2 separate regions of the Homo sapiens genome follow, and region 1 is linked to region 2. The links come from fine-mapping of genetic effects on plasma protein levels. A gene starts in region 2. The other region holds a variant in brackets. All regions are shown on one strand. Distances are from middle to middle.

Region 1 (8,339 bases), 160 kb before region 2:
TGCATATACTTTAAAAATTCAATCCATATTTCAAGTTTATAAGTGCTATACCCATTTTGGATTTGAAGAAACTAAGGCTCAGGGAGGTTGATACCATGCAAAGGCAGACAACCTCACAGAGATTAAATGGCCTGCCCATGGTCACACACATTTTACGTGTGGCTTTGGGATACAAACTCCATCTGGGTGCAAGTGATCCTGCTGCCTCAGCCTCCCCAGTAGTTAGGATTACAAACATAAGCCACCATGCCCACCCAGAGCTTTTTATACCACACCTGTGATACTAAAATGAGAGGCAGTGTGATTTACTGTAAAGGTGAATAGACCAGGGATCAGGACATCTAGATTTTGGACAGGGAAGATGGCTCACTCACATCTGTAATCCCAGCACTTTTGGAGGCCAAGGTGGGAGAATTGCTTGAGGCCAGGCATTCAAGACCAGCCTGGGCAACATAGTAAAACCCTGCCTCTATAAGAGAGAAAAAAAAGACACCTAGATCTTAGGTGGTGCTTTACGCCTCTCTTGTTCTGTCACCTTGAGGGAGTCACTTAATTTCTATGGGCCATACTTTCTGTATCTACAAGGTGTTACACATATTCCCTCCAGTTTAATTTCATGATTCCATGAATTGAATTACACGTATTTAGGATGATGATCCTTTCAGTAGGTTTGTTAGAGCGGGATGGAGTAATAGAATTGGAAAGGAAATTAAATCCATTCAGGAGTGAGATGGTGGAGGTGGTAGAGGAAATTTTTTAAAAGCGACAAATTTGGAAAATACTATGAAGAAACATCTATAGTTCTTAAGACTTAAGTTCTTTAAAAAACTATAGTTTCTTCAGAAAAAGAAAAATCACATTTCAAATTAATTTCAAAGTTATGGGAAAAGGCGAATATCTGGTGACCATTTTGACAATGACGACAATGAGGGGAGGGGTGCACCTGTAGAGAAAGAAAGGTTTAAATGTATTTTTGTTTATTTGACATATCAGTTTCAAGCGATCAATTGACAAAATACATCTAAATCTTCTTTCTTCTAGAAAATTTACTGGATAAGTCAAAATAAGTTATAAGGCCACAAAGGTTTGAAGAAGAAAAATGCCAAAAAGTGAAAACCTTAATGTGAAAGTGCATTTCCTTAAGAAGTAAACATATACAATGTAAAGATCAGAGAATTCTGACACTCAGGGAAATTTTTATTATCAAATAACATACAATAAACAACTTCCATCTCAAAGCCTCTTGGGGTTGAATTACCATAGCATGCTAACTGTTCACATTTTTAAATGAATTGTTTCGTGCAACAACATACCTCAGGAGAGACTTCTGTAATTCCAAACTGGGATAAACTTTGATGCAAAACATTGATATTAAGTGAACGAAGAACTTCCTCAGAGGGCAGAGCATCAGAAATTCCTGTTTTTCGGTTTATGGGAGACACAAACAGTTCAATACTGTTCTTCTTTCCCTAATAAAAGCAGAATATTTGTATTTGTTATAGACATTTTAAACAACTTTGGATAATATTTTTACCTGTCCTTTAGAAACATTAAAGGAAGTCAGAATTCTAGAATCCTAAAAGGCTTTGTGGAGATTATATTTATTAGTTATTCTCTGATAGACTTAATGTTACCAGTCCAAAGTCTAAAATCTTCAAATAGCTTTCTTGCCATTAGTTGCCACCCCCCAAGATTTGTAATTTTATATTTCAGTGCATGCTTGCATGCTGATTCATTTACCATTCCATATTGTAATTTTTTGATGTAGATTGTTCAGATGTTCCCTGAGTAATTATGTTTAAAGAAGCATTTTAAAATCAAATGAATTAAAGTCCAAAGTAATAGTAAAATTACAAAATTACATATTAGACATCACCACTCTCTCTATTATTTTTATAACTTGTGTTAATGTGAAGGCTTGGCTAGCTAAAGAAGATGGTGCCAGATGATCTTTGAAGTCCTTTTCCTGATACTGTTCTTCACGTCAAATATGTCACACATTTAAAATTGGTCATTTGGTGGAAATGCATATCTTATGTAGTGATGTCATGAGACTTTTCCTATTAGTATTACCTCATTAGCTGAAATGGAGTCAGAGAATTTCTTACCATAAATGTCTGATATCCTACACACACATACACACACACACACACACAGAGAGCAGACAAAACCATGGCGATTGATAATATTATCTTTCACAACTTACACAACACACTAATAGAAGGAAATTATTCTTAGCTTTCTTTCTGACACATGGAGAGCTCTCATGCTAGAAAGTTTTCTTTTAATGTGCTTTATCAGAATTTTAGCTGGTATAAAATGAAGTATCAGTTTACTACTAGCAAGCCAGTAAAAGTTTTTTCATGTTTGCAGAGAACAACAGACAATAACTAAATACTGATGTGAAACATGTTTATAACAATTTAAATAGTTTGTGACCCAATAACAACTACTGTAGGTACAGAGCACTTGTGTTGTGCCTAACATGCTATTTACCTTAAATCTTTTATCTCATTTATTGCTCAAAACACCGCTAAGCGATAGGTATTATGGTTATCTCTATTTTACAAATAAAACGTAAGAGGCTTGCCCACATTCACATACATGGAATATGGCCACACTGGAAATGAAGTATGGTTTTGTCTGTCTCCAAAACACATGATGCTAATCAACATGCTTTGCTATGTCAGGTATTGTAACTCTAGCTATTATAATAACTACTTTGAACCATGCTACTAACATTCTCTGAGGATATGATAAGCATATTCCTTCCTCAGTCTGGCAAATCCCTCCTTCACCCTTGCAAACAGCTATTATGCTCATTAAACCTAATATGTATAAAAGTATATCTAAGATATCTATATCATCTCTCTATATATCTTAGCAAAATATATATGCACAGGTTGATGCATATATATTTTTATATGTATATATTGTATATATATAAAAAATCTAGATCTAGATCCAAGACTTTTTTTCTTTTTTTTTGAGATGGAGTTTCGCTCTTGTTGTCCAGGCTGGAGTGCCATGGAGTGATCTCTGCTCACTGCAACTTCCACCTCCTGGGTTCAAGTGATTCTCCTGCCTCAGCCTCCTGAGTAGCTGGGATTACAGATGCCTGCCACCATGCCCGGCCAATTTTTTGTATTTTAAGTAGTAGAGATGGGGTTTTACCATGTTGGCCAGGCTGGTCTCAAACTCCTGACCTCCAGTTATCCACCCTCCTGGCCTCCCAAAGTTCTGGGATTACAGGCGTGAGCCACCGGGTAACCTTCACTCATTCAGGGGAATGTTGTATTTCTTCTTCTGTGGTATGAGTTAAAACTTTTTAACAGCTTGTTTACTTCTAGAACATTGTTGATTCACAGAATACAAATTTTTATGAAGAAATGAAACAACTCACTCTCTACACACAGAAAAAATAAAAAGAAACATAAACCCCAAACCAAAACAAAAAGCAAATTCCCTCCATAGTGAATGCAGATGGGTGCAATAGAAAGCTGAGCTCCATGCAGCAGAAGCACAGCAATTTAAGGCTGGGGGAACATGGAGTCCTTGCTTAGACTCCCATTGCAGTGGACATTAAGAGCAATTTAAAACCTGTACAGTGATCCCAAAGTTCCTTTTCACATAAAACTGAGGTGACTAGCTTTTTACAGAAAGACAGTCATCTGATCTGAATTTACTTTTTTTTTGGCCTTTGCTCACGCCCACTTTCCAGTGCAGATGGGAACATGTAGTTGCATGAAATCCAGGTTCCCAAACACCGAGGAAAGAGAGGAAATAATGGATGTGGGTGATTGACATATAGGCCTAGACTGGGCCCTATACAACAGATCCTTTGGGTTTACTTTTTTTTTTTTTTTTTTTACTTTACCCACTCAGATGCCCATTCAAGTTTTCTCTTGGTTTTCCTGGACTACCAATTCCTGCATTCCACCTGGGCTGCAGTCCTCAGGGTCAGTTCTTTATTCTTTATTTAAAATGCCCTGCCTTGTGCACTCAATGTCCATTGTTCTACTGATATACTTGAAAGTATATCAATAATGTCTGGAAACTGCCTCACCTGATATACTTGAAAGTATATCAATAATGTCTGGAAACTGCCTTACCTGATATAGAAGCTTTCACTCTAATGGAGAATATTTTCGGAGTAGTGTCAGGTTGGTAAGGCAAGTGTTTTGGGCTCTTTCATATTTACCACAGGACCTAGACTTGAACTATGACAGAGTTAACAAACTTCCTCTATAAAGGGCCAGATGATAAACAGTTTAGGCTTCATGAGCCAATCTTTTGCAACTACTGAACTCTGCCACTGTAATACAAAAGGCATCATGGGCAATGGGTAGATGAGCAGATATAGCTTGTTTCATAAAATTTTATTTGCAAAAACATGACGTGCCGGATTTGGCTCATTAGCCATACAACTATAGCATGAGCCCTTTAGTGATTAAAAAAACCACACACACGGCTTGAATTTTGGAAATGCGAAATGTGGGTATCTTACAATGAGGC[G/A]ATTGATGTGCACTTGCTGGGGTAAGAGTCCTAAAGCTGCAGCCACTCCTTGGCGGAAGATCCGAAGCAAGGTTATGTTCAGCTTGTTTACATCCATTTGCAGTGTCTAGAAAATAAGGACAAAAATAAATCCAAATTATAGTATTAATTTGTATAGATGTATAGAATACATCCAAATAAGTATTAATAAGTTCACGACATTCAGTTCTTGACTCATGACTGACCACAGTTTCTGTGACTCTGCTAAGTTTACACTAATAATGCTTTATTGCATTTTTGATAGAAATAAAATTATAGGAACATTGCATGTGAAATTTTAAATGGTATTAGTTAAAAAGATGTATTATAGGGGTGGAGCCAAGATGGCCAAATAGGAACAGCTCCAGTCTACAGCTCCCAGTGTGAGTGATGCAGAAGATGGGTGATTTCTGCATTTCCATCTGAGGTACCAGGTTCATCTCACTAGGGAGTGCCAGACAGTGGGCGCAGGACAGTGGGTGCAGTGCACCGTGCACGAGCCGAAGCAGGGTGAGGCATTGCCTCACTCGGGAAGTGCAAGGGCTCAGGGAGTTCCCTTTCCTATTCAAAGAAAGGGGTGACAGACGGCACCTGGAAAATCGGGTCACTCCCACCCCAATACTGCGCTTTTCCGACGGGCTTAAAAAATGGCACACCAGGAGATTATATCCCTCACCTGGCTTGGAGGGTCCTATGCCCATGGAGTCTTGCTGATTGCTAGCACAGCAGTCTGAGATCAAACTGCAAGGCAGCAGTGAGGCTGGGGGAGGGGTGCCCGCCATTGCCCAGGCTCACTTAGGTAAACAAAGCAGCCGGGAAGCTCCAACTGGGTGGAGCCCACCACAGCTCAAGGAGGCCTGCCTGCCTCTGTAGGCTCCACCTCTGGGGGCAGGGCACAGACAAACAAAAAGACAGCAGTAACCTCTGCAGACTTAAATGTCCCTGTCTGAGAGCTTTGAAGAGAGCAGTGGTTCTCCCAGCATGCAGCTGGAGATCTGAGAACGGGTAGACTGCCTCCTCAAGTGGGTCCCTGACCCCTGACCCCTGAGCAGGCTAACTGGGAGGCACCCCCCCAGAAGGGGCAGACTGACACCTCACACAGCCGGGTACTCCTCTGAGACAAAACTTCAAGAGGAACGATCAGACAGCAGCATTCGCAGTTCACAAACATCTGGTGTTCTGCAGCCACCGCTGCTATTACCCAAGAAAACAGGGTCTGGAGTAGACCTCTAGAAAACTCCAACAGACCTGCAGCTGAGGGTCCTGTCTGTTAGAAGGAAAACTAACAAACAGAAAGGACATCCACACCAAAAACCCATGTGCACATCACCATCATCAAAGACCAAAAGTAGATAAAACCACAAAGATGGGGAAAAAACAGAGCAGAAAAACTGGAAACTCTAAAAAGCAGAGCGCCTCTCCTCCTCCAAAGGAACACAGCTCCTCACCAGCAACGGAACAAAGCTGGACAGAGAATGACTTTGACGAGTTGAGAGAAGAAGGCTTCAGACAATGAAACTACTCCGAGCTACAGGAGGAAATTCAAACCAAAGGCAAAGAAGTTGAAAACTTTGAAAAAAATTTAGACAAATGTATAACTAGAATAACCAATACAGAGAAGTGCTTAAAGGAGCTGATGGAGCTGAAAGCCAAGGCTTGAGAACTACGTGAAGAATGCAGAAGCCTCAGGAGCTGATGCAATCAACTGGAAGAAAGGGTATCAGTGATGGAAGATGAAATGAATGAAATTAAGCGAGAAGGGAAGTTTAGAGAAAAAAGAATAAAAAGAAGTGAACAAAGCCTCCAAGAAATATGGGACTATGTGAAAAGACCAAATCTACGTCTGATTGGTGTACTTGAACGTGACGGGGAGAATGGAACCAAGTTGGAAAACACTCTGCAGGATATTATCCAGGAGAACTTCCCCAATCTAGCAAGGCAGGCCAGCATTCAGATTCAGGAAATACAGAGAATGCCACAAAGATACTCCTCGAGAAGAGCAACTCCAAGACACATAATTGTCAGATTCACCAAAGTTGAAAAGAAGGAAAAAATGTTAAGGGCAGCCAGAGAGAAAGGTCGGGTTACCCACAACGGGAAGCCCATCAGACTAACAGCGGATCTCTCAACAGAAACTCTACAAGCCAGAAGAGAGTGGGGGCCAATATTCAACATTCTTAAAGAAAAGAATTTTCAACCCGGAATTTTATATCCAGCCAAGCTAAGCTTCATAAGTGAAGGAGAAATAAAATACTTTACAGACAAGCAAATGCTGAGAGATTTTGTCACCACCAGGCCTGCCCTAAAAGAACTTCTGAAGGAAGCGCTAAACATGGAAAGGAACAACCGGTACCAGCCACTGCAAAATCACGCCAAAATGTAAAGACCATCGAGACTAGGAAGAAACTACATCAACTAATGAGCAAAATAATCAGCTAACATCATAATGACAGGATCAAATTCACACATAACAATATTAACTTTAAATGTAAATGGACTAAATGCTCCAGTTAAAAGACACAGACTGGCAAATTGGATAAAGAGTCAAGACCCATCAGTGTGCTGTATTCAGGAAACCCATCTCATGTGCAGAGACACACATAGGCTCAAAATAAAGGGATGGAGGAAGATCTACCAAGAAAATGGAAAACAAAAAATTACAGGGGTTGCAATCCTAGTCTCTGATAAAACAGACTTTAAACCAACAAAGATCAAAAGAGACAAAGGCGGCCATTACATAATGGTAAAGGGATCAATTCAACAAGAAGAGCTAACTATCCTAAATATATATGCACCCAATACAGGAGCACCCAGATTCATAAAGCCAGTCCTGAGTGACCTACAAAGAGACTTAGACTCCTACACAATAATAATGGGAGACGTTAACACCCCACTGTCAACATTAGACAGATCAACGAGATAGAAAGTTAACAAGGATACCCAGGAATTGAATTCAGCTCTGCACCAAGCAGACCTAATAGACATCTACAGAATTCTCCATCCCAAATCAACAGAATATACATTTTTTTCAGCACCACACCACACCTGTTCCAAAATTGACCACATACTTGGAAGTAAAGCTCTCCTCAGCAAATGTAAAAGAACAGAAATTGTAACAATTGTCTCTCAGACCACAGTGCAATCAAAGTAGAACTCAGGATTAAGAAACTCACTCAAAACCACTCAACTACATGGAAAATGAACAACCTGCTCCTGAATGACTACTGGGTACATAACGAAATGAAGGCAGAAATAAAGATGTTCTTTGAAACCAATGAGAACAAAGACACAACATACCAGAATCTCTGGGACACATTCAAAGCAGTGTGTAGAGGGAAATTTATAGCACTAAATGCCCACAAGAGAAAGCAGGAAAGATCCAAAACTGACACCCTAACATCACAATTAAAAGAACTAGAAAAGCAACAGCAAACACATTCAAAAGCTAGCAGAAGGCAAGAAATAACTAAAATCAGAGCAGAACTGAAGGAAATAGAGACACAAAAAACCCTTCAAAAAATTAATGAATCCAGGAGCTGGTTTTTTGAAAGGATCAACAAAATTGATAGACTGCTAGCAAGACTAATAAAGCAAGAGAAGAATCAAATAGACGCAATAAAAAATGATAAAGGGGATATCACCATCGATCCCACAGAAATACAAACTACCATCAGAGAATACTACAAACACCTCTACGCAAATAAACTAGAAAATCTAGAAGAAATGGATAAATTCCTTGACACATGCACTTTCCCAAGACTAAACCAGGAAGAAGTTGAATCTCTGAATAGACCAAAAATAGGATC
Region 2 (8,339 bases):
AAATAAGCTCTGTGGATCTTCCACATAATATTTTTTTACCATTCGTATTATTGTGGTGGCTTTTAATTGCCTCCTTGAATATTCCTGAAGTGGTATTTTCAACTGGAGTTTATATATTAAACTGGTTCACGAAAGAGTAAAGAATAAGGACAGTTAGGTAAAAAGTATTTTGCACCACTAACTTAATCAATGGTGGCCTCACCTATTGTAGAACCAGTGTATAATTTTATATAGTATGCAACCACGGGTCTGGAAACCTGGGCTTTTATCCCGACTATGCTATTAACTACCACTTTAATACTCTAGATCTTCATTTTCTCACCTGTAAAATAAGCAGTTGGATGGACAATAACCACAACTTCCTTGTTAGGTGATCTATAAAAATCGGCTGCCATGGGTAGAGTAGTGTCCAGCTTCTCTAACAAGAACCATGCTTAGTAATCCTTTAGTGTTAATTTACCCAGAGATGCCACTTACACAGCATGGTACCCACTCCTCATTTTTCTCCCACAGCTATTATAGACCACAGTACTTCTCCCTAGCCAGAATGCGAGTCATAATCTTCTTTTTCCCCCCGATGGTGTCTTAGGCAACCATAAGCAAAATAATGGGAGATGGCACTCAAGTTGCAAGCAGTTTGCTACTTATCATTACAGGCATGGTTATATTGAAGGCAACAGTTCCTAATATAGCTAAAAAGAACACTTACATCCCGTTAGCACATTCCTCCCATCTCTAAAGCATTATAAGGTGTCATCAGTTCCACCAGCATAAAGCAGTTGCTGATACCCTGGGCGTAACCAAAATGGATCAATTAGCTTTACAGTTAAAGAGGCCTGAATGTATAGAATTCATTTCCCTTCTTTATGAAGTCAGCCTCTGTTCTGAGAGAAAAGTCTTCCATAAAAGTAACAAACTCACACCTTCAACAAGTAGAGATTAATATCTTGATTTCTTGATCTTTGTCATCCCATCCACTTATTTTCTTAATCTCCAAATGTATAGAAGCTTAGACCAAGGAGCTGTGTTTGTTTTAGTTCTGATGAAAAGCCCTAACAATGTTATTAGATAACTGTGATAAATTTTAATCTGATGACAGCTTGTGACCCACAAATTGCTGTTTAAAATTAAAATGCATTTAAAATGAAATTGGCAAGAGAACTATAATATTAAACTTACAATCTGCTGTGATAAAACACCAATGTATTTTACTATATTAAATATGAATACAATGAATAGTATCTTGCAATTGAAATATAAAAATGTCCTTAAATGCATTTTCTTATTAAATTAAAATTGGTTGATTAATCTTACTTTTTATCTTTGTTTTGCAAATTAAAAAGTTGAAGTAGAGATGGATTGGATTGGCTTTGGTAATATACCCTTTGGCAGAACTCCAGGTAAAATCTAGGGCTACAGGCTTCTAGGTTTCTCATCTGATGAGCAAAAGTCCTCATTTTTCTCATCCCGAATATTCATCTACAGTAAATCAAGACATGTTTTTCACATGCTTCAGTTTATTTATAACTTTTAAGATATAATTACTCAAGATGTATCAAATGTGATCTTTAAACTTTTTTATATGTTAGTTTTGAAAAAATGACTACACTGATATTGTTGGCAGACCAGCTAAATCATTGCTACCTTAGTAAGAATTGAGATTTTTCTGTAATGAATGTTTGTGTCAGTCTATTATTAAGCAATACTATAAATAAAACTCAACCCAATGTGTATGTTTTCATCCCACATTTCAGCATTGAAGAATTGTATGTGGTAACGAAATAATTCACTACAGCTGTTTGCAAATAATTTAATAATCAAGTCATAGCTATTTTCTACTTCTCAAAATGTGCCAAAGAACTATTGAAAACTCCACAATATAACATCATAATTATAACAATTAACATGTGTATTTAATAATAGCTTTAATAATCCTATGCATTATTTGCTCAAAAGATTCATGATACATTTAAATAATAGCGTTAGCTGGAATAAGAAAGTACCATATTTCACTCCTACTATTGTACACAGAGAATAAAATTCACCCACTCTTTTAAAAAAGATACTGCAAGGATTGTAATTTCAGAACAATTATTTTTACTCATTACCCCTAGAACATAGTATACACTCAGCAAATGTTGCTTGAAGGAATGAATGGATATGTGTGATTGGATGAGAAGCACACTCAGGGAAAATGCCTCGTCTCTGGTTGTTACAGGACTACTGCATGGACAACTGCTGTCACAGTAGGGTTTCTAAAATCTCCCTGCCATATTTTATTTTGGTTCATGTGTGTGTGACAATGATAAGGAATTCAGCCTAGCAAGTCTGTCTGCATTAAATAGAGGTGCTATGTATGCAAAAAGCAGGGACACCACATATAATATCTCTCAGGTACTTCCCAAGGTTTGCTTCCTCACGAGACTTGATATTGATTCTGGTGCCTCAAATCTATTTATATTTGGGAGCAGTCTCACTGTTACTCTTGGTTACACCTTATCAAATCTGTCCGAGGGACAGTGCCTAACCCAGGGTTGTCAGCTTTGGAACTGTAATTGTTTTTTTTTTTTTTTTTTTTTTTTTTTTTTTTAATATGCCAGCGGACGCTAGCCACGGTGCTGAAAGAGACAAGAGGATTCTATTTGAAACCTTTTCTTCCTCTTATTGGCTTAGAAAATTCGAGTGACAAGAGCAGGGGCCAAAGGAGCCTGGTGCAGCATCACTAATGTGAACCATGTATTTCGATCTTTTGGGCGGAGATGTGGTCCATCAGGTTACAGCCAATGCCTTCCTATGAGCGCTCGCTAGACCAAGAGACCTTATGAATGTAGTAGCCGCTGCAGTAGAAAAGGTTACATCTAGCAGGATGTCTTATCCCTCTCCTGAAAAATTGACAGTTAAGTGCATAGCCTAGAAACAAGAGCAGGGAATCTAGACGGAGGGGAGGCGAAGGGGGGAGCAAACCTGTATTCATATTGAAAATGTTCACTATTTTCGTATAAAGTAAAGAAAAATCAAGAGCTAATTTTAGGTTAAGTTTTCGGCCTCAGTTTTCCAACAGGTGCACGACTCCCTCACCCCTTCCCTGTCAGGTACTGTCCTGTTTTACCTTTTTAGAAAGGCTTTCTTCGCAAGGCAAGCTTTTCCTAGAGTCCTTAAGCATGTGCAGTTTCCCATCTCATGCACAGCTCCGGCTCTAAGCCTGGCAACCCCTTACCTGCAGCGTGAAGATTAAGGAGCAGGCACAGCGCAGGGAAGCAGACTGCTCTCCGCATAGTGTTTGCATTGAGAGGTGGAGGAGAAACTCCACCACGACCCCACTTCAGGTAAAGTGCTATTAGAAAGAGCCACCGCCAAGGGTCTTCTAGTCTCCGGGATTCAGGTCCTCGGCTGGGGTTTGCAGAGCAGTCAGTCTGTGGCGCCGACAGAAACCAGCACCAGCTTCAACCTCCCTAAGAGAGGGAGAGAGGAAGAGCAGTAGGAGGTTGCGGGTAAGGGGAACAGAAGCGCTCAGAGGCGGCAAATGCCTGGCCTTCTGGACGCCCAGAAGCCAAGGCGGAGACGGCAGGGTGGACTCCGCGCCAGCCCAGCAGCCCAGCAGCAGCGCCGCGGCTACTGAGCATGCCCAGCGCCGGCCCTCACGAGGCAAGGGAATTTCAAAGTGAAATTCCGCTTCTCCGGGTCTTAGCGGCGGCTTGGAGCAGAGTAGGCTCCATCGCTGGGGTGGTGGTTGGGGGTGGGGGTGGGGGTGGGGAAGGGGGAAGTGCGGGGGAGACACTTGCTGTGGTTACTAGGGACCCAGCGTCCATCACAAATCCGAAGGTGGGGTGTAGCTGAGTGAGAGTAGATGGGGGCACGACCACAGGAGTCAGAGGAGGGAGCTGATGACATTGTCAACCATGCCACCCACCCTACTCTTTCCCCAAATCTTGATTTACACGTGGACCGAGCTCACTGCTGGGAATTGGCATTTGCAGATTGACCAGCTTCCCAGGACTCGCCTACAGGAATAGAGGTGTCTTCCACTGCTGAGCATTCTGGCTGCTCGGGGGAAGCGTTCCCAAGGCAGCTTGCTTGGTGTAAGCAGTAACCATGTATCTTGGGGGTGACTTCGTCCTTCCTACAGCTTCCCCCTCTTTGCTTCTCTTTCCACTCTTTCCAGCTCAATGACTGTATTTAAACTTTCTTCTGACTCAAGTCCTCACAGTGACAGAAAGAAGTGAGAAGATACTTTTAGACTAGTAGAATATATCCATGTAATTGAAGCACAAGAAGGCACCTTTTTGTTTCGTGGAGGTAATTAACTTTAGTTTCCCTTTTACTCTTTAAGGTGAAAGATAATGGATCACGTCAGTGCCTGGACTCATCCGGCCCAGCTCTGTGTCTCTAGGGAGGCTACCACAGTCTGCCATTAGATGGTTTTTTATCCCTCCATCTAAGTCTTTGGAGTGTGGAAAGCCTTATTAGTCATGGCTAATTGCTGCTAGTCAAGTCAAGAAGTCCCTCAGCTAGACTTCTCTTTTAACTATCCCAGGGCCTCTGCCCTTTCTGCCTCTGTGTCTTTATGGACACTGTTGCCTCTTTCCCATTTTCCTCCACTTGCACCACCACCACACTAGTTTTCGAAGGTGTAATGTTGGTCTCACTTTTCCAGAAAGCCCTAACTCTAACTAACTCTAGATTACAGTGATCTTTCTCTTCCACAACACTTGTTTAGCCGTGCCTCATATTATTCTTTCAGACAGTTCATTTATCTGTGGTTTGTTCTACAGCACATTGAAGTCTCCATAAGAACTGCTGAGTTTTGTATTCCATTAACTTGAATAAAGTTGTCCTAGCCAAATAATTGGGGCTAACAAGTGCCCATTGAGTTGAGCTGCACATCTCATTCAGTGCTTTCTTTCTCCATCCTCTGTGAATTGAGACAACTAATGGGAAATAGGCTATCCACCAGAGCTTAAATTAGGTGGGACCTTATAAGATCAGAGAGCCCAGGCGGTACCATTTATTTCTTTTATGATTTATGTCATCTTCAGCTCTGAGAGACAAGGCCAGGAAGCACTCCAACAAGTGGGAGAAGGGGACAATGAGATGTACTTTTAATATCTTGACAGGCCTTCTCTGCTGAAAATAGAGACATATCTCCATGTCTAGCCCCTCTCTAGCAACGTGCTCCACCCCCTACTCCCCCATGCGTGTGGCACACTCCATTTCTGTGGCACTATCATTTCATCCCAAACCACTCTAAGCTGCAACCTCTTCTCCTATTCCTGATTCACTGTCCTCCAGTTTGCTTTTCCCGTATCACTTTCTAACAAACCAAAATAATTACTTATAAAATCTATTGTTTAGTATCTATTTCCCTACTCCCCCCCGCAAAACAGAATTTGAGCTCCAATGTTGAAGAACTTTGATGACTTTATTGATATGTCCCAACTCCCTAGAGCAATGCCTCATGCAAAATAGATACTCAAAAATGAATAAATGAAAATGATAGTTGACAAAGTTCAATACTGACAATTAACTCTTTGAAATTCTTACTGAGTCAACCTTTGAGATAATTTATTTAGCATTCTGTAAAGCTTAGAAGAATAACTCTTCTCATCTAACATCTGTTACTAGAAATGCTGCAGGGCTGGAGGTTAGGGAAAAATAATTGTATCCCACTTACAATAGGTCTATTTTTCTTATTTTCTTGTTTCCTAAAATAACTAATTATCAAACTTACATAGATCTCCAAGAATAAAATATACTTACTTATGGTAATGAAACAATGCTGCAGTAATGTTCTGAACCCCTTCCTTTTCCACAGATAATTCCAACATTTATTGGTGGGGCATTTAAAATTCCCATTATTATAATTGACTATGACTTTGCCAAAAAGCATCCTGCTGGCAATGTATTTTGTTCAGGGCTGCAGGTAGCTGAATTGTTAAACTATGCATGAAAATTCCGTTAGCAGCAAAAATTTCCAATTTCCAATTTGGCTGGATATATCATTAGAATAGTTAGTTCAGCATGGTAAAAATAACCCTGAGTGGGCTGTAATTTTGGTGACTAGACATTCATTATTAATTTACTTAGAAATGATAAAGTAACGAAAAAGGTCATATTCCTATGTGAGTCAATCTAATATCATACTTGTAACGGCTTCAATTCACTTTTTCACTAATTGGCTAATTCACTCATTGCTGTTCGTGAAGTCAAACAGCAATGAATGAATTAGCCAATTAGTGAAAAAGTCAACCACTTAACTCATACAGAAATATTCTGAGTCGATAGGTGCTGTTTTTCCTTAACTGTGATCTAATGCTAGTGAAGGTGACTTGGTGTTTTGGAAAAAAAGCTTGGTTAAAACACTGCATCAGGGTTTTAAAAAGTTAGCTGTAATTCAAAGAAGCATGGAAATTACTATGAGAGAACTATACAAATTAGTAGTGGCCTACAGAGCTATGTCATAAAAGAATCATTTACATTTTACAAGATAAATAAAAAATATCATATGGAATTTTCCTCCACATAAGATGCATAATTTCTTTTTCTTATGAGGTGAGTCTTAGAGAAAATTTATGCAAGAAAGAAGCTTTTCAGAGCCTGCCTTCAAAACAGATTTAATCATTATGAGCATCCATATTTACTTCTCTATAAATGGATGAAAATTATTCATGTCAGCCATCTTTCCTTAAGACACTTTAAATTGAGAAATCAGATCCATTGATTATAAGGATCTCCTACTTAAGTTATTTAGATTACTATTATTTAAGTATAATTATGGCTAACATTGACTGTGCTTCCTGTGTGCCAGGTTCTATTCTAAGCATTTGGATGTCCTATTTAAACATTATAATATTTCTACAAAAGGATACTATAATGATCTCATTTTAGAGATAATATAGTTGAGGCATGGAGAAGTAACTTGCCCAAAATCAAGTAGTAAGTAATCAGTTAAAAAGTAAATTGATAGAATTAAGATGTACATCTGATAATTTGATACCAAACCACTATATTATACTACCTCTAATAACACACACACACACACACACACACAGACACACACACACTCAGTTGTAGGTTGCTCACTAGAATTAGATGATTAGATCAGGGCTGGGCATGAGATGCCTGGCCCCACAGTAAAGCTCTGTGTTGAGGAACACTCATAGAAGACTGTCTCCAGGAGAACAAGAGACACTGCTTGTGGCAGTGGACTCTGGGCCCTAGCATCTAGTGAACAAAGACAGCAAGTAAAATCATGCTTAGAGGAACTGTGTTAGAAAGATGCTTAAGATAGAATGGAGAAGAATGGAGGAAATGATTTCTTCTATGGAGGGTGGGAGCAGAGGAGGGGATGGGCAGCAGGCAAGAAACTGGTGGGCAACAGGAAACGAACTGAGTCTGGCTGGATAAGTAGGTTCTAACTGCTCTACATGAAGAGAAAGGCCAGGGAATTGTGTGAGCCAGTGGCAGAGATATAAAGCAGCAAAATGGATTCAAGGAACTTCTGAACATGTAAGGGAGCAATAGGTAACAGTTATAAACACCTCACTAAGATTTGTTCTGTGCTTGCCCTTTCCCATCCTTTATGCAGCCACTTTATCAATCCCAAAGTCTGTTTCCTTTTGTCTGAGAGCTATCTTTTATAAGAGGAGAAAAGAAGAAAAATAATTTCTTTTTACAAAGTAAATAATTGATGTGAATTAAGCTATATTCAGAGTGGAATATAGCTCAGGATGAAAAGGAATGAATTCAAAATTCACAGATGAAAATACCATGTTCAGGTATATAAATTCACCATTATTATTTTTTAGTATTTTCCCAACCATAACAAGAAGAATGATCTACCCTTTCTCATAAGCATACAGTGAAGAGAACAATGAAATTGCAAGGGGCAATAAGAATAGGGGAGGAAAAGCACTAAAATTCTAAAAATATATATTATCACATTGAAGTCTCACAAGAGCTGTGTGAAGTATTATTTTTTTTTTTTTTTTGTAGTAGAGGAGAAAACTGAAGCTCAGCGAAGCTAGTAATTTGCCTATAGCCATCCAGTTGGTAAGTGGTGAAGCTGGGATTAGAACTCAGGTATGGTGACCCCTAGCACTATGCTGTTATCAGCTGTATTGTACAACATCCCTGCTTAATGACCGAACTTATTTTAATACTTAAATTGAAAACAGTGTTCTTATCCCAAGACACAGACTTCAAGATGGATAACAACAATTACATTTTATAACTTAACACAGTTGTAGTTTTGTTAAATTAAAGCATTTGATACACACACACAAAGGCAGCAATATGTATCCTAAGGAAAAAAATTAGGTACCTAAAACAAGGCAGATATA

Which allele goes with the higher level. Alleles are on the strand shown, and positions count from the first base shown. The strength of an association depends on the size of the effect and on how common the allele is.
In carriers of allele A in region 1, the plasma level of the protein whose gene starts at base 3,623 in region 2 tends to be lower than with G alone (moderate association).

The links. PIP is the posterior inclusion probability: the model's chance that the variant is causal. Protein levels are from antibody-based Olink assays in UK Biobank. Linkage for the fine-mapping came from a reference panel and not from the study's own genotypes, which makes the PIPs less certain.
Region 1: its variant is fine-mapped to the plasma level of the PTPRR protein (UK Biobank, PIP above 0.99). The variant lies in the coding sequence of PTPRR. If it changes the protein, the assay may bind it differently, which can mimic a change of level.

What each region holds. Positions count from the first base shown.
Region 1 is chr12:70,760,158-70,768,496 of GRCh38, forward strand. PTPRR (protein tyrosine phosphatase receptor type R) reads right to left here. Exons shown (of 14, transcript NM_002849.4): 3 at 4,508-4,621; 4 at 1,314-1,469. The region is part of intron 1 of LOC124902960 (a long non-coding RNA gene); the gene reads left to right. Among named protein-coding and RNA genes, the nearest start is that of PTPRB, 130 kb to the left of the region's middle. The variant G/A (reference allele first, on the strand shown) is at 4,516.
Region 2 is chr12:70,917,116-70,925,454 of GRCh38, forward strand. PTPRR (protein tyrosine phosphatase receptor type R) reads right to left here and starts at 3,623. Exons shown (of 14, transcript NM_002849.4): 1 at 3,218-3,623. The coding sequence starts at 3,275.